Linked DNA regions of Homo sapiens. The protein of the gene in region 1 purifies or fractionates together with the protein of each later gene. This does not show direct contact. Each region holds a gene or a part of one and is shown on either strand. Other genes may lie near its edges.

The links. Proteins that work in one complex are often made in the same cells at the same time.
Region 2: the proteins of TOX2 (region 1) and AKT3 purify together in Homo sapiens (affinity purification with mass spectrometry; 2 studies listed by BioGRID and IntAct, with this or other methods). This does not show direct contact.

Annotation. Positions count from the first base shown.
Region 1 is NC_000020.11:44,064,834-44,070,134, reverse strand, and holds the end of TOX2 (TOX high mobility group box family member 2), read right to left. Parts: coding exon 5,278-5,301; intron 4,424-5,277; coding exon 4,028-4,423; intron 3,406-4,027; coding exon 3,278-3,405; intron 1,486-3,277; coding exon 1,449-1,485; 3' UTR 519-1,448; downstream 1-518. UniProt on the Homo sapiens protein: Putative transcriptional activator involved in the hypothalamo-pituitary-gonadal system.
Region 2 is NC_000001.11:243,644,240-243,651,275, forward strand, and holds part of AKT3 (RAC-gamma serine/threonine-protein kinase), read right to left. Parts: intron 1,799-7,036; coding exon 1,654-1,798; intron 1-1,653. UniProt on the Homo sapiens protein: AKT3 is one of 3 closely related serine/threonine-protein kinases (AKT1, AKT2 and AKT3) called the AKT kinase, and which regulate many processes including metabolism, proliferation, cell survival, growth and angiogenesis.

The DNA of each region.
Region 1 (5,301 bases):
GCCTCCCACCAGGCAATTGGTATTTTTCCAGATGTAGTTAAAACAGTCAACTATTATTTGCCTTTTGTTGTTGTTTGCTGTCGTTGTTAGTATCACCATCTAACATCTGCTGGGAAATCTGGTTTAAAGAATTCCCTGTCTGGGATGCTTCCTACACTCAGGTTTGAAAAACCCCTTGGCCTCCTCCCTGGATTCCCACTGCTCACCTCCACAAGCCTGGGTGGCCCCATCCTCCAGAGGAAGGGCTCGCCACTGTCACCAGCTGATGCAAGTTCCTGTGTGGCGGCGTTCTTGCCCACACCCCTTCTCATCGTCGCAAGAGCCCTACGGGTCTGACCACTGTTACCCCCTTAGAGGGCAAGACTGAGGTCAGAGTGGTCCCATCACCCACACACAAACCCACATGGGCTGGTAAAGGTCAGGCAAGACTTTGACCCGTGTCCGTCTGGCCCGAGGGGCTCTATGCCACTTTAGGGGGTTCAACCCTGGCTCACCAAGGGCAAGGAGACACAGACTTGTTTTCAGCTTTTCAGAAGTTTTATTATAAAGAGATTTGAGAGAAGCACTGGGCACCAAGACAGACACTCGCCAGGGCCAGGAAACAGCTGCAAACGACGTCAAGAACCCAAACCCAAACGAAACCCCAAAACCACACACACGGTAGGATAAGCTGTAACTTCGTTCTCAAGGTTTCTTCATAAATAGACAAAAGTCGTCGCCGGCAATTTAAAATAGATGAATACATGATTAAAAGGAGAGCAGTGCTCCGGGGTGGCTAGCAAGCGTCCGGTCCTTGCTGTGAGGATGACGAAACGGTTTGGCAGCCGCTTTTGTGCGCGTCTCCCTTAAGATAAAACTTAAAAATGTGCTAAGGATCATATAAAATGCTTTTTACCTTAAAGGAAACTACTTTTTTCCCCCACAAAATAGTCTTACAGATGTCTTCAGCACAGTTCTAAAACACGTAGTCAACTACTTACACGGAACCAACAGTTTCTAGGTTTCGTAATCTTTTGTTCACACTGGAAAACCGATGTGCACATCTATGCCGGGGGCCGGCCCTCTGGCCCATGCATCTGGGGTGGGTGTCCGTTGGTAAGCGACCCCGCCAGGGGCGGCCCACCTGGGCTGGGGCTGGAGCTGGGGCCGGGTGTCCAGACATAGGGTACCGTGCGCAGGGCGAGGACAGGGTCCACAGTTACCCTGGAGCAAGCAGGTCAGCGGGCGGAAGGTTCCTGCAGGTTCTTTGGGCTGGTGGTGGGCAGTGGGCTGCCTCTGCAGAGTCTGGTGGGAGGTTGAGGAAGAGACTCAGCCCCCGGGCAATGGGTGTGTCACTGCTCTCTCCGATGGGCCACCCTGCCTCTGGCCAGGGCCTCTTTTCTGCTGTCAGCCCTTCAGGCTCTGAGCAGTGCCTTCCAGCGAGCCTCAGGGATGGTAGGGAGGCGGGATTAGGTGAGGTAGAGCGATTTGTCCCTGGGGAGCAGGCTGTGAGAGAGAGGAGGGGCTGTCAAAGCTGTTGGGTACCTCTCCGGGCCAGGGGAGCACCAGGACCCCTGCACTGTACGCCCCACCCCCACCCCTGGATTCAGCTGCCCCTCTGTGGCTGAATGAGGGACTTGCATCTGCAAGTCCCACCCCCACCCACCTCTACACCAAGCAGAACCAAACCCCTCCCGGAAACCCAGCAGGGGACCACCCGGTCCTCAGCTCTGGGTGAAAGGGCAGTAGCGTGTCTGTCTTTCATCGAGGCGCACGCCGATGTCACCATTGCTCTCACATGGGTTTTTAATCACAGGAATTTGTAAATCTCAAACTGAATTAAGGGAGGACAGGTGCTTTTTATGTTTTTAAAATACGGCCCTGCTGGGGTCTGACCTCCATGCTGGATGTGATGGGCAAGCCTCAGGAGGCTTGGACATTGTGTGACACTCCCCTACATACCCTAAGTATTCTGACTTTTGAGAAGGAAACTTAGGGACAGGAAAGGGCTGGGGTAGGAGGGTCTGCACCTGCTTGGGGTGCAGGGAAGGGATTCTTGCTGAGCTGAGTCCACCCACCCATGTAGAATCTCACTTCAGGCATGTCAGAAATGGGGCATGCGCGCTGGTCACTTGTTCAGTGTCCAAGGGCGCTGGTGGGTCAGCAGAGGAACCAGCCGTGTGCTGGGAGGCCGAGGCTAGGGCTGGGGGCAGCGTTTCTCAGCAGCAAGGTGGCCACCCGACAAGTGCGCTGTGCCTTCCAGGTTGTGGCGCTATCGCTGGGACAGCTGCTTGGCACTACGTCCCCCAGGTGTGGCTGCGGGACTCATTTTTGCCAAGGGAATGGGAACCTGGCTGGCGGGTTAAGGAGCAAGTGTCCCTCCTCACTGCACTCTCCCTCTCCTGCTGGCTGCGGTTGTTGAAAGGTCACTCTTCCCCAGAGTTGGGGTGGCGTGGATCCAGGAAGACTTTCTAGAGGGAGGTGTTAGCATGGGTTTGAAAGGTGGAGTGCAGGATAGGAACAGAGGCCTGAGACAGGAGGCCCACAGGAGGACTAGGGAGGACACTGGGGTGCAGGGAGAAGGGGTCTCTAAGGTGTCTGTAATTCCTTGGGATAGACAGTGGGTCCCTTCTCCCACCGTGTCCCACCGAGGTCCCCTGTCCTGCATTCTTAGCTGTTCTAGTCTTGGGAGCTGCCCTGCCCAGTGGGCTACACTCACCCCGGGGCAGCCCACAGCCAAGGGCTGACTGATGAAGGGTTCAAAAAGCCAGTTCCCTGACCTCCAGGTGGGAGCCACTCTAGCACCGTTCATGCTCCAGGGCTCCCATGGGATGAGGCAGAAGCAAGTCTTCAGCTGAGGCCACATCCCCCCTCAGCTCCTTCCCCCACCCTGTCCTGCCTCCCTCACCCCCTTCTCCTGCAAGCTTTCCCCAGTGCATCCCCAAAGGCACCCAATCCCTGCTGCCTCAGGCTCTGCTTCTAGGGAACTGGCCTAAGATGCAGGACTCATCTGTGAATGTCACGTGGAAGCACTTGTGAAAAAAACAGGAGCAAGGAAGAAGCAGCAAGACTGAAGACTAGTCAGTTTCCCAAGCAGGCCTCAGCATCAGGCCAGCAGAGTCCTTCCGGGGCCTGGCTCTGCGGTGTCATCTGAGATATCGATCCCCTCAGCAGGGCTGACAGTGACTGCAGGGTCCTCCCCTGTCCACGTTGCCCTTGGCCATTCTCCCATCCCTGGCCATCCTGTTCCCACTCTCCCTGGCTGGCAGGACAAAGGCAGGGACGGGCGAGGACTAACCTGCAGGTGCTGATGCCACACTCCCCACTGGGGTAGCTGCTGTCCCAGTCCCCGCTGCTGGTGGGGTTGGATGGGCCAGGTGAGCAGGATCCCGAGCTGCTGGGGAACTCAGAGATGTGCGGGAAGTCCTACAGAGTGGGAAGGAGGAGGCCATGAGCCAAGGAGAGATGAGGGGGCAGACTGTCCCAGGCCTCCCGGGGTGAGAGCCCATGTGTCCAAGGGTGTCCACACCAAAGAGATGCTGCCTCCAGGGCTGCTGCCTTGCTCCCAGTAGAGCACCTTTCAAAATGTTCAACCCTTGTCTTGGCTGAATCAGGGGCTGAAGGACTTGGCTTTCAGGGCCTTTCCCTTTCTGGGCCTCAGTTTCTCGATCTGTAAAATGGAATTACTGAACCCAATGACCTCTAAGGGCCATGTGAACCTCGTAGCAATCTCTGTGGAACAATTAGCGGGGGTAAGGTCTCGAAGGCTTTGGGAAGGGCCAGGGCTAGGGCTGAGGATGCAGGAAGGGGGGACTGGAGTATCCTAAGAGTCAGTCTGGCAACTCGTGAACTGTTCACTGCAGCCAGCACATCTCAGGTAAGGTGTGCGAGACCCACTTCCTAGATGTGGTAACTGAGGCTCAGAGAGGTCAGGTGCCAAGGCTGAGGTTATATCACTGGTGAGTGGCAGGGCCAGGGTTTGAAAGGGCAAAGCCGCTTCCCCTCCCCACACGGTCACAGAAGGGCTGTTCTGCTCTTCCCTGCTTACCTGTGGCCCTGGAGGTGAGGGGCTCATCGCCAGCTGCACCTGGAGTGCCATGGGGGTGGGCAGGACAGGGGGCTGGGGGGCTGGGGACATGCTAACAGGTGGACTGAGGAGGGCGCCCTGGGCGTGAGGGGGCAGTGACAGCTGCTGGTGCAGTGTGGGGCTGAGCGGGAAGGAGGGTGGCGGCGGCGGGGACGCACTGAGGCCTGGCAGCAGAGACTTGGAGCCCAGCGTCCGGGCGAGGCTGGCAGGGGAGGCCCCACTGCGGAAGGCCTGCAGGTCCGACGGCGTCAGGAAGGAGGCCAGGCCTGGCATGGCATACATGGGCTGCTTGGGTGGGAGCATTTTGGCTGGTGGGTTTGCCTGAGTGCTCTTGGTCTCACCTTGATCTGGGGAGCTCTGGAAGGAGACAGATATCAGTCACTGGAGAACAGAAGAGGGATGAGCCAGAACATGGGCTGTGAGGCCAGGAGGCTCTGCAACCCACTGACACGGCTGCTGGCTGGCTGTCTTGGGAGAGAGCTTGGACTAACCAGAGATAGCACAGGGTCCTTAGTCCCCTTGGCTCTGACCATCCAGTCACCTACTGCTTTTATCTTTGGGGGGCTCCCCTGCCCTTGGGGGAATCCATGCTCCTCAGCCTGGCCAGTGAGACAAGCACCATCCCACTGAGCCAGCTCTAATCATGCTCCTTCCAACCTCTGTGCCTTTGTAGATGTTTTTCCCTTGACTTTGAACCACCTTTTACTTGGCCTGTTATAGACCAGTTTGGATGCCATCTCTTCTGTACCAGGAACAACACCCACCTCCACTTGGGCCACGCATCCGCAGCCACACTTAGCTTCCTACGTTGCTGGTGTTGACAGAGGAGGCCGACGGTGTGGTGAGGAGGTGCCATATTTTGGGGTAGCGTGTCCCAAGCCCCATCAGCGGTCAGAAGTGAAGGCCACATAAAACTGGCAAAACTGGGTTTGAATCCTAGTGCGGCCACTTTAACAAACTGGATCTTTTCAGGCAAGTTGCTCAACCCCTCTGGGTGCTGGGTTCTTGTTGGAAGAAGCCAATGAAATGCATGTAAAGTGCCCAGAATGAGCCTGGCATGCTGTAGGTGCCCTGCAGACATGACCATGTAGGTCTGAGCCATTCTTTCTAAGACCTGGGGTGCCGGCCCTTCCCACGGGCCCCAGTTCTTGCTCCATTCCTCAAGTGGCCCCACTCTGATCAGGGCTGTGCCTGGAGATTCCGGGTGTTACCTTGGAGACGAGGCTAGCCCGGTA
Region 2 (7,036 bases), on another chromosome or scaffold:
TACTCTGTTTCTCAAAATATTATGAAAAACTGTTGTCCTTATATGACATTTGGATATTAGTTAATTTCAATTGATAATAAAGCTTGTAAATTCTTGAAAAAACCAGTAGAACTTTACTATCACAACCTAGTGCTAGAAAGGGAGGAGTTCAGATCTTACTGCCTGGGGTTAAGTACTGGCTCCCACCCTGTGTGTAATTAAGGGGAAAATTTCTTAATCCTTCCATCCTTTATTTCCCTTAACTATAAAACAGGAATAATAATGGTACTTAACTTATAGTTGAAGTTCAAAATGAAAAAAAAAATGTTTAAAGTGTTTATGTAATACGTGCTCAATAAATATTAGCTATTAAAGTTAGCTACTATTCTTTGTCCACATAAAGATAATTAAACATAAACATCACTCTAAAACATCTTCTCTTAGAATTTTTTACTCCAACTGAGTCTCCAAAAAGAAAAATCCATAGAGGTATTTTGAATTTGGGGTTCAAATACTTAACCATATCAGATTTACACTATTCTTCATTTCATTTTAAATGAAATAATTTACACATGTACAAAAGAAGCTTTCTTATCTCTGAGTAGGTAGGTGGGTGTAGCTAGACTTTGTTTTTCTTTTTGCAATGATGGAGGAACAAGGCAGATTAAATTGACGTAAAAGAAAAGAGGGATTCAGTTCAACAAACAAACAGAGTAGAAATCTACAATGAAGACAGAAAGGGATCTCAGACATTTGGCCCAGATCAAGTATAGAATATTATTCTTATTCACATAAGGAAAGGATAATTAACTTTATGTTGTGAGTGTGTAACTTCACCAAGTCCACAAGTTTAACGTGGAAAAGGGAGGATATGAACTCAGGCAGTCTATCTCCAAAGAGTTCTTAATCACTGTGCTAATACCAAATTTCATGGATAATACCTTGAAAATTTGTGTTTTCCTCCCTGAAGATTAATTTACAACCTATTAAATCAAACATATTCTAAAGTGATAAATGGCAAGCTTATCTCAACACCTCTATCTTTAATCATGAAAATATCATTTTTGTAATAAGGAAATTGCTTTTCAATTTTCTATTGCAATGAAAAAATTTATATTGCTCATAAAAATATAAATTCGTACTTATTATGCTGGAACACTGAGAGAAGGAAAAGTCTATTTCCCTACTGACTCAGAAGCAGCCATTAAATAAGAGTTATTGTTTCCAAGATTGTTCACTTTCCTGCTGACTTTACTATGACTGAGGGCACCAATCAGGAAGTACATCCGAGCCATTACTGCTCGTGCTTTTCGGGAGAATACGAAATGCGAAATGGAAAAGAACAAATCATCAGGGAAAACATTTTATTACAAAGTTTCTAAAATTGTATTAAAAATAATAAGGAAAAAATGCAAATTATAAAGTAGTGTGATGGCACATCAGTCACACATGAGCCCTATCAGCATTCAGTGCTAAAGTGCTGGATCACTGAAACAATGTTCACCTATTTGGTTTTAAACAACAACAGGTATTTCAGATTCATGTGAATAAGACCCACCAATATATTTACATATCGTAAGAAAACTGGCTGACATCTTTCTGCAAATGGTAGCTTTTAATATGTTTCTTCCAGACAAATGAATGCTGTGCTGGGAATAAGTTATTATTTTCTACCTTTCTTTTATGATGGGTTGTAGAGGCATCCATCTCTTCCTCTCCTATATTATCAATTTGTGAAGTTGGACTACAATTCATTCTCTCCTCTTCTTGCCTCTGCAGTCTGTCTGCTACAGCCTGGATAGCTTCTGTCCATTCTTCCCTATAAAAATGAGTAAAATTTCCCATTAATAGAAGATGGTAAATGATTTAAATATTTTCCTTTTATAAACTATGAAATCAATACAAATAAAATCTATTCAGAGATCAAACACACTCAACACAGATAAGCATACACTCTCACCATCACCCCAAAGTGAAAATAATCCTAAGAGCATTTCATTCACCACATGCCTAAAGTCTGTAGTAGCATTTTTTGGAAGTATGTTAAAGAAAAAAAGAGAAGAAAAAAATTGTTGAAAACTCGAGTTAAAATCATTTACATGAAAAGTTAAATTTTATTTGTCTGTACATATATATATCCTACTTTTTTTTTTTTGGAAACGGTCTCACTCTGTTGCCCAAGCTGGAGTTCAATAGCATGATCTCAGCTCACTGCAACCTCCACCTCGTGGGTTCAAGTGATTCTCCTGTCTCAGCCTCCTGAGTAGCCGGGATTACAGGCGTGTGACACAATGCCTGACTAATTTTTGTATTTTTAGTAGAGACGGGGTTTCACCATGTTGGCCAGGCTGGTCTCGAACTCCTGACCTCAAGTGATCCATCCGCCATGGCCTCCCAAAGTGCTGGGATTACAGCCATGAACCACCGCACTTGGCCAATCCTAACTATTAAGTTGACCCCCTAAAAGTTTGCTGCAGTTTTTAGAAGTGTTTTGCTTAGCTATTTTAAGTCCATCATTGACATCCTGAAGATTTCTATGAGGTCCAACAGACATTCCAAGGAAAGGTTTTCAAAGCCAAAACCTTTCATTGTTTCCAGATCATAGTAAATTTCTTAGAAAAAATTAAAAAAAAGGATACAGCTTGTAGTTTGAACAATCAGTCTCAGGAGCATTTATATCAAGCATTTATTTTTTGACATTTGGTTATCAGACCAAGGATCATTATTTTTCCATGTGAATTTTAAAATCAGCTTGTCTACTTCTTAAAGTCTATTTGGATTTTGACTGGAATTACATTAAATCTATAGATGAATTTTGGGAAAACTACCATCGTAATCATTTAAATCTTCCAATCCATGAACATGGTATAGCTCTACATTTATACAGGTCTTTAATTTCCCAATGCAATGTTTGTAATTTTCTGTGTAAAGATCTTTCACATCTTTAACTGAATTTATTCCTACATACAATCATGCACCACATAACAATGTTTCAGTCAATGATGGACTGCATATACGATGGCAGTCCCCTAAGATTATTACACTGTATTTTTACTGTACCCTTCCTATGCTTATATGTTTAGATACATAAATACTTACCATTGCATTACAATTGTCTATAGTATTCAGTACACTAACATGCTGTACAGGTTTGTAAACTGTGAGCAACAGGCTACACCAAATAGCCTAGGTATGGGGTGGGCTATACCATCTAGGTTTGTCCAAGTAGTATGTTTACACAATGTTCCTAATGACATGTTTCTCAAAACGTATCACTGTCATTAAGTGACACAAGACTGTTCTTTTATGCTATTGTGGAGGGTTTTATTTCACTTTCTAATTGTACTTATTAGTATTTAAAAATACAATTGATTTTTGTATATTGACTTTGTATACTGCAACTTTATTAAATTCATTTATTAGTTCCAGTCACTCTTATTTTTCTGCATTTTCTACACATGCAACCATGTGGTATGCAAACAAGAGCAGCTTTACTTGTTTCCAATCCGTATGCTTTTTACATCTTTTTCTTGCTTTATTGCCCTAGATCAGACCTGCAGTACAAAGTTAAATGAAAGTAAACAGCAGCATACATGCTTTGTTTCACAAGTTAGGAATAACATTGTTTTCATCCCCCTTGAATATTATGTAAGTTGTAGATCTTCTATATAACATTTACTTAATCAACTAAGTTCTATTCTATTTCTAGCCATCTGCATATTTTTAATGAAAGTTTGTTGAATTTTTGTCAAATGTAGGCCAGGTGCAGTGGCTCATGCCTGTGATCCCAGCACTTTGGGAGACTGAGGTGGGCGGATTACCTGAGGTCAGGAGTTCAAGACCAGCCTGGCCAACATGGTGAAACCTCGTCTCTACAAAAAATACAAAAATTAGCTGGATGTGCTGGCAGGAGCCTGTAATCCCAGCTACTCGGGAGACTGAGACATGAGAATCACTTGAACCCAGGAAATGGAGGTTGCAGTGAGCTGAAATCACACCATGGCACTCCAGTGAGGGTGACAGAGCAAGACTCCGTCTAAAAAAAAAAAAAAGAAAAGAAAAGAAAAAGAAAATAAAACTGTCAAATTCTTTTTCTGTATCTCTATAAAATGATCACACAGATTTTTAACTTTATCATATTAATATGGTGAAATTAGCTTAATAGTTTCCAGATGTTAACACAACTTTGAATTCTTGGGAGAAGCTCCATTTGGCCACATAACTTAAGCTTTTATGCTTTTTACCTATTGTTTAATTTGTTGATACTTTGTTAAGAAATTCTGCATATGTTCACAAGTGTATTGGGCTATAGTTGTCTTTTCTTAAAATAGTTCTGTCTGATTTCTGAAATGAGGGTGACAGTGGCCTTATAAAATAAGTTGAGAAGTACTCCCTTCTCATTATTTTCTCAAACAGCTTGTAGAGGATTGGTCAAATTTCTAACTTAAATGTTTGACAGAACGCACCAATAAGGCTGTCTGGGCTTGGAACCTTTGAGGAAAGGTTCTTAATTACTAATTCACTTCCATTCATTGATATTGGGTTTTCTAATGTTTTCTTGGATGTCAGTAATTTGTGTCTTCCCTCTTTTTCCTTTAACAATACCCCAAAACGTTTTTCAATTCTATTAATTTTTTTCAAAGAGTACTTTTGGTTTTATTAATTATTCTCTACTATTTTTCTGTTTTCTATTTCACTAATTTCTGATTGCTGTTGTTTCTGTTTTCTTTTGGTTTATTTTTCTGGTTTCTTAAGATACAAGCTTAAGTTAACGATGTGAGAAATTTCTTCTTTTCAAATACAGGTATTTAAGGCTACAAATTTCCTTCTAAGCATTCATTTAGCTACACCCCACAAATTTTGATATGTATTATTTTCATTATTGTTCATTTAAAATTATTTTCTAATGGCTCTTGTGAGTTTTTTGACCCAATGATTATAAAAAATTATGTTAATTTCCAGTAATTGACATCTATTGTCTTACTGTTATTGATTTCTAATTAATTCTGTGGATTACAGAACATACACCATATAACTTTCATCTTCCAAAATGTACTCAGAATTATTTTATGACCAAGAATATGTTATGTGTATATGTGTGTGTGTGTGTGTGTGTGTGTGTGTGTGTGTGTGTGTGTGTATGTTGGGTGTGTGTGTGTGTATATATATATGTTATGTGTATATATATATACACATACACACATACATACACACTTTAAGTTCTGGGGTACATGTGCAGAATGTGCAGTTTTCTTACATGGGTATACATGTGTCATGGCGGTTTGCTGTGCCCATCAATCCGTCACCTATATTAGGTTATTTCTGCTAATGCTATCCCTCCCCTAGCCCCCAACTCCCTGACAGGCCCCAGTATGTGATGTTCCCCTCCCTGTGTCCATGTGTTCTCATTGTTCAACTCCCACTTATGAATGAGAACATGGGATGTTTGGTTTTCTATTCTTGTGATAGTTGGTTGAGAATGATGGTTTCCAGCTTCATCCATGTGCCTGCAAAGGACATGAACTCATCCTTTTTTATGGCTGCATAGTATTCCATGGTGTATATGTACCACACTTTTTTTATCCCGTCTATCACTGATGGACATTTGGGTTGGTTCCAAGTCTTTGCTATTGTGAATAGTGCCGCAATAAACATACGTGTGCATGTGTCTTTATGGTAGAATGATTTATAATCCTTTGGGTATATACCCACTAATGGGATTGCTAGGTCAAATGGTATTTCTAGTTCTAGATCCTTGAGGAATGGCCACACTGTCTTCCACAATGGTTGAACTAATTTACACTCCCACCAATAGTGTAATAGCATTCCTATTTCTCCATATCCTCTCCAGCATCTGTTGTTTCCTGACTTTTTAATGATTGCCATTCTAACTGGTGTGAGATGGTATCTCATTGTGTTTTGATTTGCATTTCTCTAATGACCAGTGATGATGAGCATTTTTTCATACATTTGTTGGCTGCATAAATGTCTTTTGAGAAGTGTCTGTTCATATCCTTTGCCCACTTTTTGATGGGGTTGTTTTCTTCTTATAAATTTGTTTAAGTTCTTTGTAGATTCTGGATATTAGCCCTTTGTCAGACGAATAGATTGCAAAAATTTTCTCCCATTCTGTAGGCTGCCTGTTCTCTCTGATGATAGTTTCTTTTGCTGTGCAGAAGCTCTTTAGTTTAATTAAATCCCATTTGTCAATTTTCGCTTTTGTTGCCATTGCTTTTGGTGTTTTAGACATGAAGTCTTTGCCCATGCCTATGTCCTGAATGGTACTGCCTAGGTTTTCTTCTAGGGTTTTTATGGTTTTAGGTCTTACATTTAAGTCTTTAATCCATCTTGGGTTGATTTTTGTATAAGGTGTCAGTAAGGGGTCAGTTTCAGTTTTCTGCATATGGCTAGCCAGTTTTCCCAACACCATTTATTAAATAGGGGATCCTTTCCCCATTGCTTTTTGTCAGGTTTATCAAAGATCAGATGGTTGTAGATGTGTGGTATTATTTCTGAGGCCTCTGTTCTGTTCCATTGGTCTGTATCTCTGTTTTGGTACTAGTAGCATGCTGTTTTTGTTACTGTAGCCTTGTAGTATAGTTTGAAGTCAGGCAGCATGATGCCTCCAGCTTTGTTCTTTTTGCTCAGGATTGTCTTGGCTATGCGGGCTATTTTTTGGTTCCATATGAAGTTTAAAGTAGTTTTTTCCAGTTCTGTGAAAAAAGTCAATGGTAGCTTGATGGGGATAGCACTGAACCTATAAATTACTTTGGGCAGTATGACCATTTTCTTGATATTGATTCTTCCTATCCATGAGCACGGGTTGTTTTTCCATTTGTTTGTGTCCTCTTATTTCCTTGAGCAGTGGTTTGTAGTTCTCCTTGAAGAGGTCCTTCACATACCTTGTAATTTGGATTCCTAGGTACTTTAAGCTCTTTGCAGCAATTGTGAATGGGAGTTCACTCATGGTTTGGCTGTTTATTATTGGTGTATAGGAATGCTTGTGATTTTTGCACCTTGATTTTGTATCCTGAGACTTTGCCGAAGTTGCATATCA